2 separate regions of the Homo sapiens genome follow, and region 2 is linked to region 1. A link means that fine-mapping ties the variant in region 1 to the expression of a gene that starts in the linked region. Tissue or cell type: whole blood. Region 1 holds a variant in brackets; the other region holds the start of a gene. All regions are shown on one strand. Distances are between the middles of the regions.

What was found.
Region 2: TAMM41 starts here. The variant in region 1 is fine-mapped to the expression of TAMM41 in whole blood (TOPMed, PIP above 0.99). The same link has a PIP of 0.9 or more in aorta, blood mononuclear cells, cerebellar hemisphere, cerebellum, cerebral cortex and esophagus mucosa.

The regions. Positions count from the first base shown.
Region 1 is chr3:11,803,556-11,811,893 of GRCh38, reverse strand. TAMM41 (TAM41 mitochondrial translocator assembly and maintenance homolog) reads left to right here. Exons shown (of 8, transcript NM_001284401.2): 6 at 2,212-2,377; 7 at 3,999-4,061. Among named protein-coding and RNA genes, the nearest start is that of TAMM41, 39 kb to the left of the region's middle. The variant T/G (reference allele first, on the strand shown) is at 3,561.
Region 2 is chr3:11,842,390-11,850,727 of GRCh38, reverse strand. It overlaps TAMM41 (TAM41 mitochondrial translocator assembly and maintenance homolog), which reads left to right and starts at 3,843. Exons shown (of 8, transcript NM_001284401.2): 1 at 3,843-4,226; 2 at 6,517-6,699. The coding sequence starts at 4,092.

The DNA.
Region 1 (8,338 bases):
TAAAAGCTAGTGTTTATAGTATAGTCACAGAGCTGCACAGCCATCACCACAATGTAATTTTAGAATATTTCTGTCACTCCATACCCTTTAGCCGTCCCCAGCTCTCCCCTCACCCAGGCAACCACTAATCCACTTCTGTCTCTGTAATTTTTCTGTTCTGGACAGTTCATATGCATGGAATCATATAAAGTTTTTTCCATATCTGCTTTTTTCTTAAGTTGACATATAATAATTGTATCCATGTCCGCTTTTAAAATGCAATTTGACTTTCACAGTTTAGCTGAATGCTTTCACTTTCGTTATTTTAATGAGAGTTAGTGTAAGGAAAATGAGAATTTACCAAATTTTTAAATCATGTCACCTGGTATTTTATCTTTACACTCATGCTTTCAAGTGAAAATTCCAGTGCATTATTTTCCTCAAGAGAAAGCAGTGGCAGATAAGTACTTTCTAATTTTTTTATATGTCACTCAAGCCGTTGGAAGCTTCATAGGTAAAGCATAACTTAAATATAAGTTTATTCTAACTAATCCCAATATGTGGCCTCAAAACATAAGTCCATAAATGTCATTTCTAAGATTATTTTACATAAATACTCAAATTTGTTGTCATTTTTGTAGCCAAAGCTAAGTAGAGGATGGGGCCTGTGAATTTAGAACCATCCTAGTGATAAATATCAAATATTTAGATAAAAACCTAAATATTTACCCCTCTAGCTTTATGGAGCCATTAAATAATAACATTTTTCTCCTTCTCTTCATAGAGTTTATAGACAAAACTAGAAAATTCAGGTATTTGGTATATACTTTTTTGTTTTTTTTGATACCATCTTGGTCTTGTCACCCAGGCTGTAGTGCAGTGGCACAATCACCACTCATCGTAGCCTCAACTTCCCAGGCTCAAGTGATCCTCCCACCTCAGCCTCCCAAGTAGACAGAACTGTAGGCTTGCACCACCATGTCTGGCTTTTTTTTGTTTTCTTTTTTTTTTTCGTAGAGCCGGATATCTCACTCTTTTGCTAGGGCTGATGTTGAATTTTTGTGCTCAAGCAATTCTCCTGCCTCAGCCTCCCAAACTGTTGGGATTACAGGTGTGAACCTGTGCTCCTGGCCCATTTGGTATGTACTTAATAAATATTTATTCAATTTAAAAAATGGTAGAATGAGTGGATTCTAATTATTAAGAAAGTTCGTCCTATCTGTAAACTCTAAGCCTAAAATGTAATACATTGATCTGATTTTTTCTTACTCTTCTCTTAGTTGAAGTTAAAACCTAAATATTTGTTAAAAGGATACAAGACAGATTCTTCCTTGGGAAATAATGTGATGGGCTGTTGAGGGCAGTGTTACTGGTTCTGCACTTGGCAGGAAATCAATGTTTACAAGATTTTTAAAAATTCATTCCACGAGGCACAGTGTATGAAACTTGGAGTTAGGAAAGCTAGGTCTGGCCTCAGCTCTGTGGCTAACTTTTGATTCAAGGGTTTCTGAGTAAAGTCTGACACATAGTTTTACATGTTTTATTTATATATTTATCTTCAGCACCTTAGTATGTTTTAGAATACTTTGGGAACCGAAGCCGCTGGCATAGTAGCTTTAGGACAACTAAGTTGTATTGATTCAGTTACTCATTTCCTTATTGTTTTTTGAGTACCTACTGTGTGCTGGGGATTAAAAGTAAGTAAGATTAGTTTCTGTCATCAGTGTATTCCTACAGTTTGTGAAATACAGCATACTAAAAGGCCCTACAGGCAGGAGACACAATTCAGATCCCACTTACTCTCATTGGTGATGTGATCAGGGCACGCCAGTCTCCCTGTGTTTGAAATGGGAGGGGTCATCTCAGTGCCTGGATTTGACGCGGCCTCCACGAGTGTCAACTGCAGCACCACTTCCTTTGACTGCTGGATTTAAGACAAATATAAATTTTAAAACCAAAAGTCAGAAATTGATCCTTGAGAGTGGCTTCTATTCTTTTCTCAGGTAGAAATGGAATATTATAGGACAAGAATTGTCCTTTTTGAAGGGACTTAGACTCCTGAACACTTACCCATTCAGTTTCAGAAAAAGAGAGTTTCCTTAGCTTGCTGCCTCGCCAGGGGTGTGGGTGCATATATGTTTGTGTGATTTTTAAAGAGAAGCCCTGAGTTTTGGAGTATTTGTAGGATTTAAAGCACTTCCATAGACGTCGTCTTTTTTTTCCTCCCTTCAGATAGATAAAAGCCCAGAAGGACAGTTCACTCAGCTGATGACATTGCCCAAAACCTTACAGCAACAGATAAATCATATTATGGACCCTCCTGGAAAAAACAGAGATGTGGAAGAAACTTTATTCCAAGTGGCTCATGATCCCGACTGTGGAGATGTGGTGCGACTAGGTACGTTTATGAATTTGATGTTGAGGAAATGCCAGCCATGGGGAAAAGCAGACTTTGTTTGTGATTGGAATGTATTATTTCTTCCTTTTTGTTTAGCGAGATAGAGAGATTGCCTCTCAGAAGAAGAAAGCACTAAAAATTTGAGGGTTTTCTAAATCTGCATTTTTATTTGTTTGAAGTAAGATGGTGAAAATACTTCTGTTTTTAAATTCCTGGATCCTAAATCACTGTCAAAGGGAGAAACAATGTTTCTTTTGGTTCCTAGAGCACAACTTCTAGAATTTATTTAAAAGATGTGTCTGTGTTTTGTGGTGGTCTGAGAAAAGAGATTGGTGGCATTTTTTTGTGCTTTTATAACATCGAGAACACAGCTTTCCTCAATCAACTCCATTTGATGTGTCTCATACATTGTTGAGTACATTCCCTCAGACATGGCCCACGTTCCACAGCATTTTCCCCAGCACTGCCCTGATGTTTATCCAAAACTCTGAACCCAGGCCAGGTGCAGTGGCTCACGCCTGTACTCCCAACACTTTAGGAAGTCCAGGAGGGAGAATCACTTGAGGCCAGGAGTTTGAGACCAGCTTGGGCAACAGAGCAAGACCCTGTCTCTGCAAAAATTACAAAAGTAGCTGGGCATGGTGGCACATGCCTATAATCTCAGCTAACTTGGGAGTCTGAGGTGGGAGGATCGCTTGAGCAGTTGGAGGCTGCAATGAGCTAGGATCGCACCACTACACTCCAGGCTTGGTGATAGAGCAGCCCGTATCTCTTAAAAAACAAACAAAAAAAAGAGCCTGAACCTTATCTTCAGAGACTAACTTCCCTTTAAGGTGCTAAAGGTAATTTATGAGATCAGTCAATCAAGAAATATTTATGAAATTGAGAATGAGTCCCTCTGTCAATTGAGTGCATTCTCCTGTTTTCATTCAGTAAATATTTACTGAGCTCCTCCGCGTGCCAGATAGAATTTCCAGTAATGCTTTGCAAAGACCATCGCACTGCAGTGGATGAGCTGCAGCAGGCGCTCCACGCCCACTCTCCTCCTGGGCCTGCACTAGGTTTGCAGAGTGTGTGTTTAGGTCACCAGCTCCCCATCCTGAAGATAGCTCTGTACGAGGCACACTGTTGTTTGTTTGAACATGATCCTGGCAACAGTGTGATCTGGGCCGTCTCTTTGAGG[T/G]GAGTGAAACTTGTTCCTCACTGTGGAATCCGTATGTGTGTTTTCAGAATGAAAGTTTTTCTCGTAGATGTAATCATTTGGTTTTTATCTTTTCATGTTATGGAATTGAGAACCAGAAATCTCAAGCAGATTTAAGTCATAAAATGCCCTTTGAGGGTCAGCTAACCCATCCCCTTGTTTTAAGGGGAAGAGGCACAGAGCTGTTCGGTCATCGGCTTGGACTCACACAGCCGGGTGGCGCCACGGCTGGCTGCTCTGGTCTCCTGGCCCTCAATCCCACTGCCCTTTTCATTGTCACTGTGACAGCAGGACAGAGATAGATTTGGTGGTTTGATTGGCTGACTAGAAAGAATATTTAGTTTCAAGTTTTAAAACTGTTAAGATGACTAACATCTGTTTTGGGTTTTTTTGGTCTCCTTTTTGGTTTTTTTCTCGCAGGGCTTTCAGCAATCGTGAGACCGTCTAGTATAAGACAGAGCACGAAAGGCATTTTTACTGCTGGTAAGAGCTTTGGAAATCCGTGTGTAACATACCTGCTGACTGAGTGGCTTCCACACTCTTGGTTACAGTGTAAAGCTTTGTATCTTTTAGGTGCTTGTGAAATGCTGAGCTTTGATGGCCATAAACTGGGATATTGCAGTAAGGTACAAACAGGCATAACAGCAGCAGAACCTGGTGGTCGAACAATGTCAGACCATTGGCAGTGCTGTTGGAAGCTTTACTGCCCTTCTGAATTTTCTGAGACACTTCCTGTGTGCAGGGTTTTTCCCTCATATTGTTTTATTTATCAAAGTTACAGATGCATAGGATTGCAAAAACAGCAGCATCTGTGCTCCCCCTCCTCTTCCCCTTCTCTGAGACAACTGCTTCCATCTGTCTTAGTGGGTTATTTTTGTTGTTACTGCCATTTCTCTAAATGGTAAGTTTTCGTTGCTCCTTCTCTACGTTTCAACTTTAGGTATCATCTATTGACTTCTCTCTATGGGAGGTTAGAAGTCAACTCTGGCACCCACCCTCATCAAATGTACGCACCCTCCCATCCCTCTGTCCTCCTAATATAGTTGTCTGGTGGTTTTGGCTAATTAGTTTTCAGTTTGATGGTATGGTGAGCCACAGAGTACACCTTTCCTTCCCTGCATAATGTTCTTCTCTCATGGAGAGTGTCTTCGCTGTCCCCTCTAGGGGGTCCCCCATTTACTGTATCTCATGTCTTTCACTTGCTTGGTGCACACTCTCATTTTGGTGAAGCACATTTTCCAGTAATTTCCTGAGAAGGGGAACATGGAAGGCACATTTGGAGACCACGTATGTCTGAAAGTCTTTTTTGTCTGTCTTCACCCATAGTTAATACTTAGGCTGGGTATTGATTAGAAATCACTTTCCTTTAAAATTTTGAGATCATTGCTGCATTTATCTTTTACTTCTAGGATTGTTGTCTATGTCTAAAGCCAATCTGATTCTTAATCCTTTGTGTATGTTATTTCTGGAAGCATGTTAGGTCTTTATTTTTCCCCAGTGCTCTGAATTCTCTCAGTGATGTGCTTTGATGTGAGTCTGTTTTTATCTGTTTTATCTGTTTTACCGGGAATTCATTGCCCTTTCTGTTGGGAAACTCAGAATATAAGCATATAAGAAAAATGTTTTAAATTTTTTCTTTAATTTTGTCCCATCTGTTTTCTCTGTTCTCTTTCTGGAACTCCTTTTATTCAGATATTGCACCCCCTAGATTAGTCTTTGGTTTTCTTTCTTTTGTCTTCTATTTTTTATCTGTTTTTCTTTTGCTCTGCTTTGGAAGATTTTCTCGAATTTCTCAACTTTAGCTTCCAACCCTTCTGTTGAGTGTTTATAATTTCCAGGAACTCTCTCTTTTCTTGCTGTTCTCTGAATGCTCCTGTTTTTTGCATCCTATTCTTGTTTTATGGCCTAAATATTTGACATCTCTTTGGAGGACAAAGTGGCTGTATCAGTTCATCGTCCCACAAGCAGAGTAGGAGAATACTCTTTTCTTCCCATTTTTTCCAACATTTGGCATCATCAAGTGATAGACTTTTCTAGTTCAGGCTTTCTTCATGCAAGCATCCATTGAGCATCTCTCATGTGCCAGCTGCTCGGGATACAAAAGTGAACACAACGCTGCGTTAGTCTGTTCTCATGCTGCTAATAAAGACATACCTCAGACTGGGTAATTTATAAAGGAAAGAGGTTTAATTGATTAGCAGTTCCACATGGCTGGGGGTGTCTCAGAATCATGGCGGAAGGTGAATGAGGAGCAAAATCATGTCTTACATGGCGGCAGGCAAGAGAGCATGTGCAGGGGAGCTCCCTTTTATAGAACCATCAGATCTCGTAACACTTATTCACTATTATGAAAACAGCACAGGAAAGACCTGCCTTCGTGATTCAATTACCTCCCACCAGGTCCCTCCCACGACGTGGGGATTATTACAATTCAGGGTAAGATTTGGGTGGGAACACAGAGCCAAACCATATCAAATGCTATACTGACTTGCAGAGGCGTATAATTTAGAAGGGAAAAGAGACATGCTAACAGAAATTTGCAAGAGAGGGAGAAATAGCACAGAGGTAGCCCAAAAAGGGGAGTGATCTTTCAACCTAATTCTAATCCCTGGGTTTGAGATTGCTGGGGAGCTGGTATGGTCACACCTCTCAGTGTCTCATAGCCCAGCTGCTTGGATACTCCTCTGAGCATTTGGCCCTCAAGGACCGTGTTGCCCTCCTGAATCACTGGAAAGATTCAACAAGGCCAGGCATGGTGGCTCACACTTATAATCCCAGCACTTTGGGAGGCCAGGGCGGGAGGATTGCTTGGGCTCAAGAGTTCAAGACCAGTCTGGGCAACACAGCAAGACCCTGTCTCTTTAAAAATAACAAAAATAGGCCAGATGCGGTGGCTCACACCTATAATCCCAGCACTTTGGGAGGCCAAGGCAGGAGGATCACTTGAGTCCTGGAGTTTGAGATCAGCCTGGGCAACATGGTGGAACCCTGTCTCTAAAAAAATAGAAAAAATAGGCTGGATGTGGTGACTCATGCCTGTAATCCTAGTACTTTGGGAGGCCGAGACAGGCAGATTGCCCGAGCTCAGGGGTTTGAGACCAGCCTGGGCAACATGGTGAAACCCCGTCTCTACTAAAATACAAAAAATTAGCTGGGCGTGGTGGCACATGCCTGTAGTCCCACCTTTGAGCGGCTGAGGCAGGAGAATTGCTTGAACCTGGGAGGCGGAAGTTGCAGTGAGCCAAGATTGTGCCACTGCCTCTGGCCTGGGCGAGAGTGAGACTTCGTCTCAAAAAAAAAAAAAAAAAAAAAAAAAAAAGGGCTGGGCGTGGTGGTGCGCGCCCGTAGTCCTGAGCCCAGGAAGTCGAGGCGGCATTGAGCTAAGAACGCACCACTGCACTTCAGTCTGGGTGACAGAGTGAGACCCTGTCTCAAAAAAAAAAAAAATTATAATAATAAAAACATTGTATAAAAGTTTCAACAAAGACTTAGTAGCACTTGTGTCACATCTGCTGAACTAAAGATTTTCCTACCATTTGGGTGCATGGCTTTGCATTTCCAGTTAAGATATTCATTTAATCTATGTTCCTGCTAGTTTACTCTGGCAAGACTGAAGATGAGGTACTTTTGTTTGTTTGGGTGATTCATGCTGTTAATCTGAATTTTGCATGATTGCCTTTCCCTTGCCATGATCCTCCTTGGGTGAGGCTTAATGATTTGTTTTGTTGTTGGCGTCCCATGCTATAAGGAATTATTGGAATTATTAGAATTATTGTTAATTATTTTTCAGTTGTGACAATGGTGGTGTTATGGAGCTTTTTAAAAAATTCCCTTTCTTTTAGAGATGCATACTAAAATAATTCCAGATGCAATGATATGTTGTCTGGGATTTGCTTCAAAATAAAACATGGCAGAGGGCAGTGGGTAATGGGTAGATGACACAAGATTGGCCATGAGCTGATATATTGTCAAAGCTAGGTAAAGATGCATGGGGCTGTTTTATACTCTTCTGTCTGTTATTTAAGTTTGAATTTTTCTCTAATAAAAGGCTGAAAAAGATCTTCTTGACACCTTCAACCTGAAATGAGCCTTTGGTCCTCTTTCCACTCATTATTTCTACTCACCAGCAGAGGGCAGTTGATCACAGAACCCACAGCTCAGCTGTCCTTGTGGCCCTGGAGTGCTGATGCTGCTTCCCCTGAGTGCTTACTGCTTGCTTCCCCTTCACTTTTTTTTCTTTTTAATTTTTAAAACGTTTAAGGAATACAAGTGCATTTTTCTTACATGGTGAAGTCTGGGCTTTTAGTGTACCCATCATCACCCAAATAGTGAATATTGTACCCAATAGGTAATTTTCCAACCCTCATCTCCTCCCACCCTCACACTTTTTATAGTCACCAGTGTCATTCTATTCTGTATGCTCATGCATACACATTGTTTAGCTCCCACTTAAAGTGAGAACATGTGATACTTGAATTTCTGTTTCTGAGTTATTTCACTTATACACGTGGCCTCCAGTTCTATCCATCTTGCTGCAAAAGACATTATTTCATTCTTTGTTATGGCTAAGTAGTATTCAAGGTGAGATATAGATGTAGATATATACACATTTTTGTTATCCAGTCCTCCATTGATGGACACTTTGGTTAATTCCATATCATTGCTATTGTGACTAGTGCTGCAGTAAACATACGAGTGGTTTTTTTTGTTTTTGTTTTTGATATAATGATTTCTTTCCTTTTGGATGTATACATAGTAAT
Region 2 (8,338 bases), 39 kb before region 1:
AAAAAAAAGCATTAAAGCCATAGATGTTTTTTTACAGGGCTTTAAAAAAAATGGATTACATGGATTCGATGAACCTTCTCCTAGTGAAAGCCTGACAAGGTCATTATTAAGGAATACAAAGACAACTGCTAGATAAATCAGAAGAATGAGGCCCAATATTCACTCGAGTCACCAGGCATTTATCTATATTTGTAAGTGGCTCTCTAACATGTTTATTTCATTGGTATAAGCTTTCCAACAGAACCCTAAAGCGATTATATAGAACACTGGGTCTTCCTAATAGCCTCTAATTTCACAAGCCATGGTAATTTAAAAGAGAGTGGGTGGATGAAGGGCCAGGAGCAGGGAGATTTCTGCTGAAGAATACAAATGTGTTCGTGGCTACGTTGCTTCTGCCTCTTTCTGGGGAAAGGCAAAATGCACACAGGAATGTGATGGAACCTTCCAGCTGGTGGTTTTGCATTGCAGGAAGAAAAGTGTTTGTGAACATGAAAATTGCTGATAATTGGGTGTGAACGCCTGTAAGGGAGACAAATGGAGAAACATTGCAGCATCTTTATTTCTATCAAGGGCTGAACTCTGCTGGTGGGTGTGTGAATTGGCACCATCTTTTGGAGGGGAATTTAGCAGCGTGCTGACACTCTGACCCAGCAATTCCCCTTCTAGGAATCTGTCTTATAGCAATACTTGTTCATGCACATAAAATGTACAAGGATGCTCATGATAGCATTGTTTGCAGGTGTGAAAACTAGAAATAACCTACATCCATCAACAATAAAATGTTTAAACAGGCCAGGATGCCTGTAACCCCAGCACTTTGGGAGGCCGAGGCGGGTGGATCACTTGAGGTCAGGAGTTCGAGACCAGCCTGGCCAACATAGTGAAACCCCTGTCTCTACGAAAAATACAAAACTTAGCCAGATGTGGTGGCGGGCACCTGTAATCCCAGCTACTCAGGAGGCTGAGGCAGGAGAATCACTTCAACCCGGATGGTGGAGGTTGCAGGGAGCCTAGATTGTGCCACTGCACTCCAGCCTGGGTGACAGAGCAAGACTCGCTCTCAAAAAAAAAAAAAAAAAAAGAAAGAAACAAAAGAAAAGAAGAAAGAAAGAAAGAGAAAGAAAATGTTTAAACACTTTCTTTTAAACAAAAAATTTTAAACAAAATTATGGCATATCCATATCTTAGAATAATTTGCTACTAATACATGGAATGAGGGAAATCTATATATTCTGACACAGAACATTGTCCCTGATACGCTAAGTGCAAAAAAAGCAAATTGCAAAATAGTATCTATCCTAGGAATCCACTTAAAATTGTTTTTAATGTTAATATATTCATAGAAAAATATTGGAAGGAATATGTGCCAAAGATTACCGTGGCTATTTCTGGGGCATGATGTATGTATTTCATAATGTTTACATTTTTATGAACATGGATTACTTTTGCAAACAGGAAAAATCCAATGACGTTGAATTATTTCCCCAAGGGAAGGAAGGAAATAAAAAAGGAACCGGCTGGTAATGAGATTTATTCACTGTCTTTGGGTGAGAGGCTTCAGTGTAATTCCACGGTGAGTGCACTCTGATTCCGGCACCCTGGGCAAGGGCGATATGTAGTAAAAATGAACGGAAGTGACCATGCCCACACCAGGGGCCGCAGACAAACGGCCTCTCTCCGCTCCCTTGCCCTGGTCTCCTGCTTGTTGCTGCGGCTACTGCTGCTGCTCCTGACTCTTGGCTGATGCCTGAGTGCCTGCTTTCTTCCCATTTCCTTCTCTCACCCTGCAAGCCGCTGTAGAGGACACTTAAACATGGTGGTAAAGACCTTGGCCTTTAGAGGTAGGTAGCCCTAGGTTCAAACCCCGACTTCACCACTTTCCTGTGTGACTTTGGAACATTTACTGCTCCTCTTAGGACCTCTGTTTCCTCGTATGAAAAATATCATCATCTTAGAGAACCTGCCTCATAGGATCTCTGGAGTGATGAAAAGAAACAAGTATAAAAAGCCTGGGTGCAGTGGCTCACGCCTGTAATTCCAGCACTTTGGGAGGCTGAGGTGGGCAAATCACTAGAGGTCAGGATTTCGAGACCAGCCTGGCCAACACAGTGAAACCCCATCTCTACTAAAAATACAACAATTAGCCAGGCATGCTTGCTTGAACCCAGGAGGCAGAGGTCACAGTGAGCTGAGATCGTGCCACTGCACTCCAGCCTGGGCAACAGAGCAAGACTCGGTCTCAAAAAAAAAACAAAAACAGAAAAGCCCCAAAGAAGTCTAAAAAGTGCCTGGGCATACTAAGTGCTTAATAATGACACCTATTATTAGTATTATTGTCACCGAGTCCTTTCAATTCTTTCTTGGTTGAATTTTCCCATCTATCTTCTACCTGATAAACTCCTACCCAGCTTCCAGGCCTGGCTCAAAATGCCATCATTGTGAAACCTCTTCTGGTCCCTTTCCCCAACACCCAGAACTGACTGACGTTCCCATTGGAGGGACATTACATTCCGGCACTGTGCTGGGTACCTGGCTGCATTACCCAAATTCTACTCTGATTTGCAGTTCTGTCTCCTCTCCTCTACAGACCCCTAGCTCCTGCAGGGCAGCAGGCAGCTCAGATCTCTTCATCTCAGTGCAGGCCCAGAGTGTGAGTGCAAGTAATCATTTTTCCAATTGATTTAATCCCATCCCTGCTCCTAAGACCTTGGCCTAGCCGTTTCCAGTTCATGGGGGAACTATGATAACAACTGTCTAATCAGTCCCCCACAATTCAGGCTAACATGTGAATTACATAAGTCCTTGCTCAAAACCCTTCAAGGACAGAGCAGAATTTCCGAAAAAATCCCAGAGTTGGAGCCAGACCTGGGTTTAGCTCTAGTTTTGCCACAGGCTGATGTGATCCTATCACCTGGCTTTACCTCTCTAAGCCTTAGCTTGGCCATCAGTAAAACCAAGGCCCTCCTGCCACAGGGCACTAGAGGGTGCTCAGTGAGAAGTGCATGTGAAAATGTGTCAACATTACCTGAATGTTAGCTATTACTATTTCTATTATTTTTGAGAGGTAGTGTATTTTGGGGAGGAAGGAGAGGGTAGTTGAAAAAGTTTCTGTCCTGGAAGTCAAACCACCTCCTGAATGGTAATCTTCAGCAAGTTTCTCCAGTTATACAAAGAGGAGAGCTGTAAGATTTTTCTACTCCTAGGGTCCTGTTTCCTCCAGAAACTGCATTTGAAGCACCCTTTGTGAGACCATTCCACAAGGCAAGGGGGCAAAAACTGTGATCCACCCTTGAAATTAAATGCAAGTATCAGAGAACGTCTGTGCACTCCCATATCCACCCTTGTATTTGAAAAGGGCTTTAGCGTGAAGAAGTCTCCGTCAAATCTTGACGGTGGTATTCTCTACATGGCGGGATTGGGCATCATTTTAATTTTGTGTTTTTCCAAATCTTCGAAATCTGCAATTTTGGAACTAGAGCGATGATGGGGGCACAATATTGTGAAGGCACTACATGCTACTACACTGTCCATTTCAGAACGGCTAGTTCCATATTATGTGAGTGTCGCCTCACTTAAAAACCTTCAATACGCTCCCGATTTTATAGTCATTCTTTAAACCGTAGTTTGAAGAGAGAAGTACAGAGGCTATCAAGGCTCAGGGCCCGCGGAGTCGGGTGACGCTCGCCTCCGCCGATTTGTCCAAGTCGCAACCTAGCCGCCAGCCTGTAGGGCACTCCTCCGACCACGAGGGGACAATGCAAAGCCTCGCGTTCCCCACACTAAGGCGAGCACCGCCTCTTGCGTCTTGGAAGCGCCTGTGCGTGCGTGGGGCGTAGCAAGGGACGGAAGCTCTGCCTGTGCGACCGCCGCCCACCCGAGCCTATCTGGGCTGCGTCTTCTCGCCGCTGCTCTTCGTGGCCCAACGCCCCAATCCTTGCGTGTGCTTGCAGTCCCACCCCACACTCAGCCTTGTGTCCCTCGATCCAGTCTCCGACTTCCATTTCCCACCCTAAACCGCCTACCCGGTGTCTGTTCCCCGCCCGGTTGTCCTCGCCCTGCTGCGCTGAGTGTCCCCTGTTAGCCTCGACCCCATGGCGCTGCAGACGCTGCAGAGCTCGTGGGTGACCTTCCGCAAGATCCTGTCTCACTTCCCCGAGGAGCTGAGTCTGGCTTTCGTCTACGGCTCCGGGGTGTACCGCCAGGCAGGGCCGAGTTCAGACCAGAAGGTGAGCCCGGGCAGCCCCACGACGGGGAACTGTCTGTTCTCACGAGTCCCGTTTTGCCCTCGATTCCTTCAGAGTCGGAGAGCTGCCTGTCCGCTCTGCACACTCCACGTGTCCACTAGCAGAGTGAACCATAGGCCTGCCTTCCTAGTATAACGACAGCGCGAGTTGAAGCGACGGTGTTGAAGGATACTTAGGAATCCACGTGGGTCTAGAGCAGGAGAAGCAGTTAGGCAGAAGGAAAAACTGCTGCAGGGGCAAATGGAAGAAAGGAAAAGAAATCGTTATCAGGTTCTTTCAGTGTTTTAGTCGGCTGGACATCGGAATTTTCTGGGGAGCTTTTAAGAAAATCCTAATGCTCGGCTTCCGCCGATGGAGATTCTGATTTAATTGGTTTGGGATGAGGCCTGGGCTTCAGGAATTTAAGAAACGTCCCAGGTGATTCTAATGCGCAGCCAAGTTTGTTGAGAGTCACCTCTATAAATGTAGGAGAAAATGCAAAATGATCTTCTGACTTCAGGAAGTTGGCGGACTGGTTGTAGGGCCAGGGCAGGTGCAGTGAAAGTAACTAACATCAAAAGTTAGTGCGTGACCAGTGTATTTACCCTCGCTCAGCACTTTTAACAACGGTCTGTTTGAGACTAGGCATTGTTACTTTTCAGAGTTGGCTCAGCACAGCCTCAGTAAGGGTACAGTTTTCCTTGTAATTTGCAGAATTCAGTGTGCAGGTTTTAATGGGGCCCCCTGCGTCTGGATACCTGACTGTAGTCTGTCTTCTGATTAACATCCTGCCTGTTCACTTCCTGGTGAGGCCATCTATGCTGTTGCTTGGATTTCCTCTGTTTCCCACTTACACTACTATTTAATATTTTTCTTTAAATTGGCAGCATATGAGAAATTATAGGTTATTATAGGCTAGTTATTTTTCCCGAATTTACCTTAACATAATTACACATTTTTAAAAAACATGTTTATTCCATACCTGCCTCGCCACCAAATCTCAAGTGTCCCCAGTGGTCTGTAGAGTCACACTCTACAGAGCAGGCGTTAGCCTCCTGATGGCCACCTCTTCATTCTTCCATGGAGGTTTTCCTTTGAATAGACCTGGAATTCCCTGCAAGAAAAGGTCCTTCCTTCCCATTCCCTCACTTTTGATTCCTTACATTCAAGTGAACAAGTTGTAGATTCCAACACCTACATCTTTCTCACATCAGTCCCCATCCTTAGCGCCTTAGCTAATATAATTTCATTTCTCCCCTGGAATCTTGCCATGGCTTCAGATCTAATTCCCCCACCCCCTTAGTCCCTCTTCTCTCCAGTCAGCTCTTCTGCAGGAAAATTTTCTAGCATGGCAAACAGCCTCCCTCTCTGATCTCATCTCCCACCGCATAAATGTGTTCTATTTCAGTCATATCTGACGGCAGCTTCCAGAACATGCTGGCTCCCATATCCACAGAGCACTTTCCTCCAACACGGCTCCCTACCCTTCCCTGTGCTTCCCCCAGTGCTTCCAGCAAGTCTGTTTAACTCACGTGTCCTTCAAGACTCAGATTTGTCATCTCTAGGAGAATTTCTCCCTCCTGTGCCCCTGATCTGATCCCTATGCTGAGTGCAGTTAGTACATTTTGCATTCCTCTATCAAGTCAATGTAGTGATAATTTGTTTATTCTCTCCAGTAGACTCTGAGCTCTATACTTCTACCCTAGGGCCTGTCAGAGTTCATTACTTATGTACTCAATAAGTGGTTGGTGAATAGGTAAGAGATAAAATAACTGACTTCCTTTTATATAGTATTTTGTAGAGTTTATCCAGGTGGTGCTAATTTGATCCAGAAGAAAAGCGGAGCACATTTAGCTACATTTGTGAAAGGCAGTGTAGTGCAGTGGTTCAGCACACACAGTTTGGAGCCAGACCTCTTAGGTCTGCCACTCACAAGCTCTGTGTCCTTGGGCAAAGAGCATCCCCTGTGCCTTGGTTTCTTATAAAATTGAGATAATAGCAGTAGCTACCTTGTAGGGTTGTGCTGAGGATAAATGGAGTGACTGCGTATGTTACCCATAAAGTGTTTAAAGAGTGCTGGCACAACAATACATGTTAAAGAAGTGTTTGCTATTATTACATTGATGAAAACAAAGCTCATATTTGTTCCAGAGACTCGCTCACATTTCTGATGACAGCACCAGGCCTTCTGACTATTGATCATAATTGCGTAGTATGTTAGAGCTTTTCCATGCTCTCTTGCTGCCTTTCTAGGAATTAATACTGAAATTATTCTCTTTTCTTCACTCCACAGAATGCTATGCTGGACTTTGTGTTCACAGTAGATGACCCTGTCGCATGGCATTCAAAGAACCTGAAGAAAAATTGGAGTCACTACTCTTTCCTAAAAGTTTTAGGGCCCAAGATTATCACGTCCATCCAGAATAACTATGGCGCTGGAGTTTACTACAATTCATTGATCATGTGTAATGGTAGGGTAAGTGACTGCTGGCCTTTGTCTTAACTTGGCTGGTTATTTACCTGGGTTATTAGAGTGCCAGCTAAATATGTATGTTCTTGTGGTCAGGAAACATTCACACTCCTGCTGGACGTTGTTATAGTCGGGAAATATGTATGTTTTTATAGTATGTATATTCTTATAGTCAGGAAACATTCACACTCCTGCCAGACGTCTTGAACTTGGGGACAGAGCAGGGACTGGAGTCCTTCCTCATGTCCCATTAACTGTCATTGCAGTGTGAGGAGGTGGTTGGGTGTGACTGACTTATTTTATTTTTTTTATTTTTTTGAGACGGAGTTTTGCTCTTGTTGCCCAGGCTGGAGTGCAGTGGTGTGATCGCAGCTCACTGCAACCTCCGCCTCACGGGTTCAAGTGATTCTCCCGCCTCAGCCTCCCAGTTAGCTGGGATTACAGGCGTGTGCCACCTTGTAGGAGAGACAGGGTTTCACCATGTTGGCCAGGCTGGTCTCGAACTCCTGACCTCAGGTGATCTGCCCGCCTCAGCCTCCCAAAGTGCTGGGATTACAGGCGTGAGCCACTGAGCCCGGCCACACTGACTTTATTTTTTTGTCTTTGGCCAAGTGGTTCTCAAGTTTTAGTGTGCATCAGAATCCCCTAGGTTGTGTGTCCATTGGACACACAGATTGCTGGGCCCCACCCCCAGAGTTCTGATCACTAGGTCTGGGGTAGGGATTGAAGATTTGCATCTCTTAACACACTTCCAAACAGTGCTGAAGCTGCTGGTCTAGAACCATTGGTCTGGTCAGTGGGAGGAATAGGCAGGCCAATTTTGGGTCAGGTTGGAGATTGATTTTATCTAGAAGGAGGGGCAGACACCCCCAGGAAGAAGTTGGAAGTGAAGAGGATATCACAGGTGATTGAGAGCATGTGTGTCAGGTGATAGACGGGAACCTCTTGGTGCCAGGAGACGCGTGGAATTTGACAGTGGGCTGTTGGAGAGCAGGTAAGTTGCATGGATTCCTGCTGGTGGTTCATCTGACAGCAGGAACTTTGCTGAACTGTCTTTCAGCTGAAGCATCGCAGTCTCCAAGAGAGCTGTCAAGACCTAGGCAGAACCCCAGCCTGCAAGGATCAGTAGGGGTCTAAATCAGATGCTTCCTAGAGCTTCCCTGGGCCAGGGATGACATATGGGTTTCACTTGCTGTGCCAGCTCTGCCACTCATTGTTCAAGGCGGTCAGGCTTTGGCCGGCATCGAGCCACCTGGAGATCCCATTTCAGTGCAGATCCTGACTCAGTTGGTCTGAGATGGAACCTGAGATTCTGCCTTTTTTTTTTCTTTTTCTTTTTTTGAAACAGGGTCTGGCTCTGTCACCCAGGCTAGAATGCAGTGGCACCATCTCCGCTCATTGCAATCTCTGCCTCCCGGGCTCAAGCCATCTACCTGTCTCAGCCTCCCAAGTAGCTGGGGCTACAGGCACATACCACCACGCCTGGCTAATTGTTGTATTTTTTGTAGAGACAGGGTTTTGCCATGTTGCCCAGGCTGGTCTTGAACTCCTGACCCCAAACAGTCCTCCCAAAGTACTGGGATTTACAGGTGTGAGCCACCATGCCCCACCAAGGTTCTGCTTTTTTTTTTTTTTTTTTTGAGAT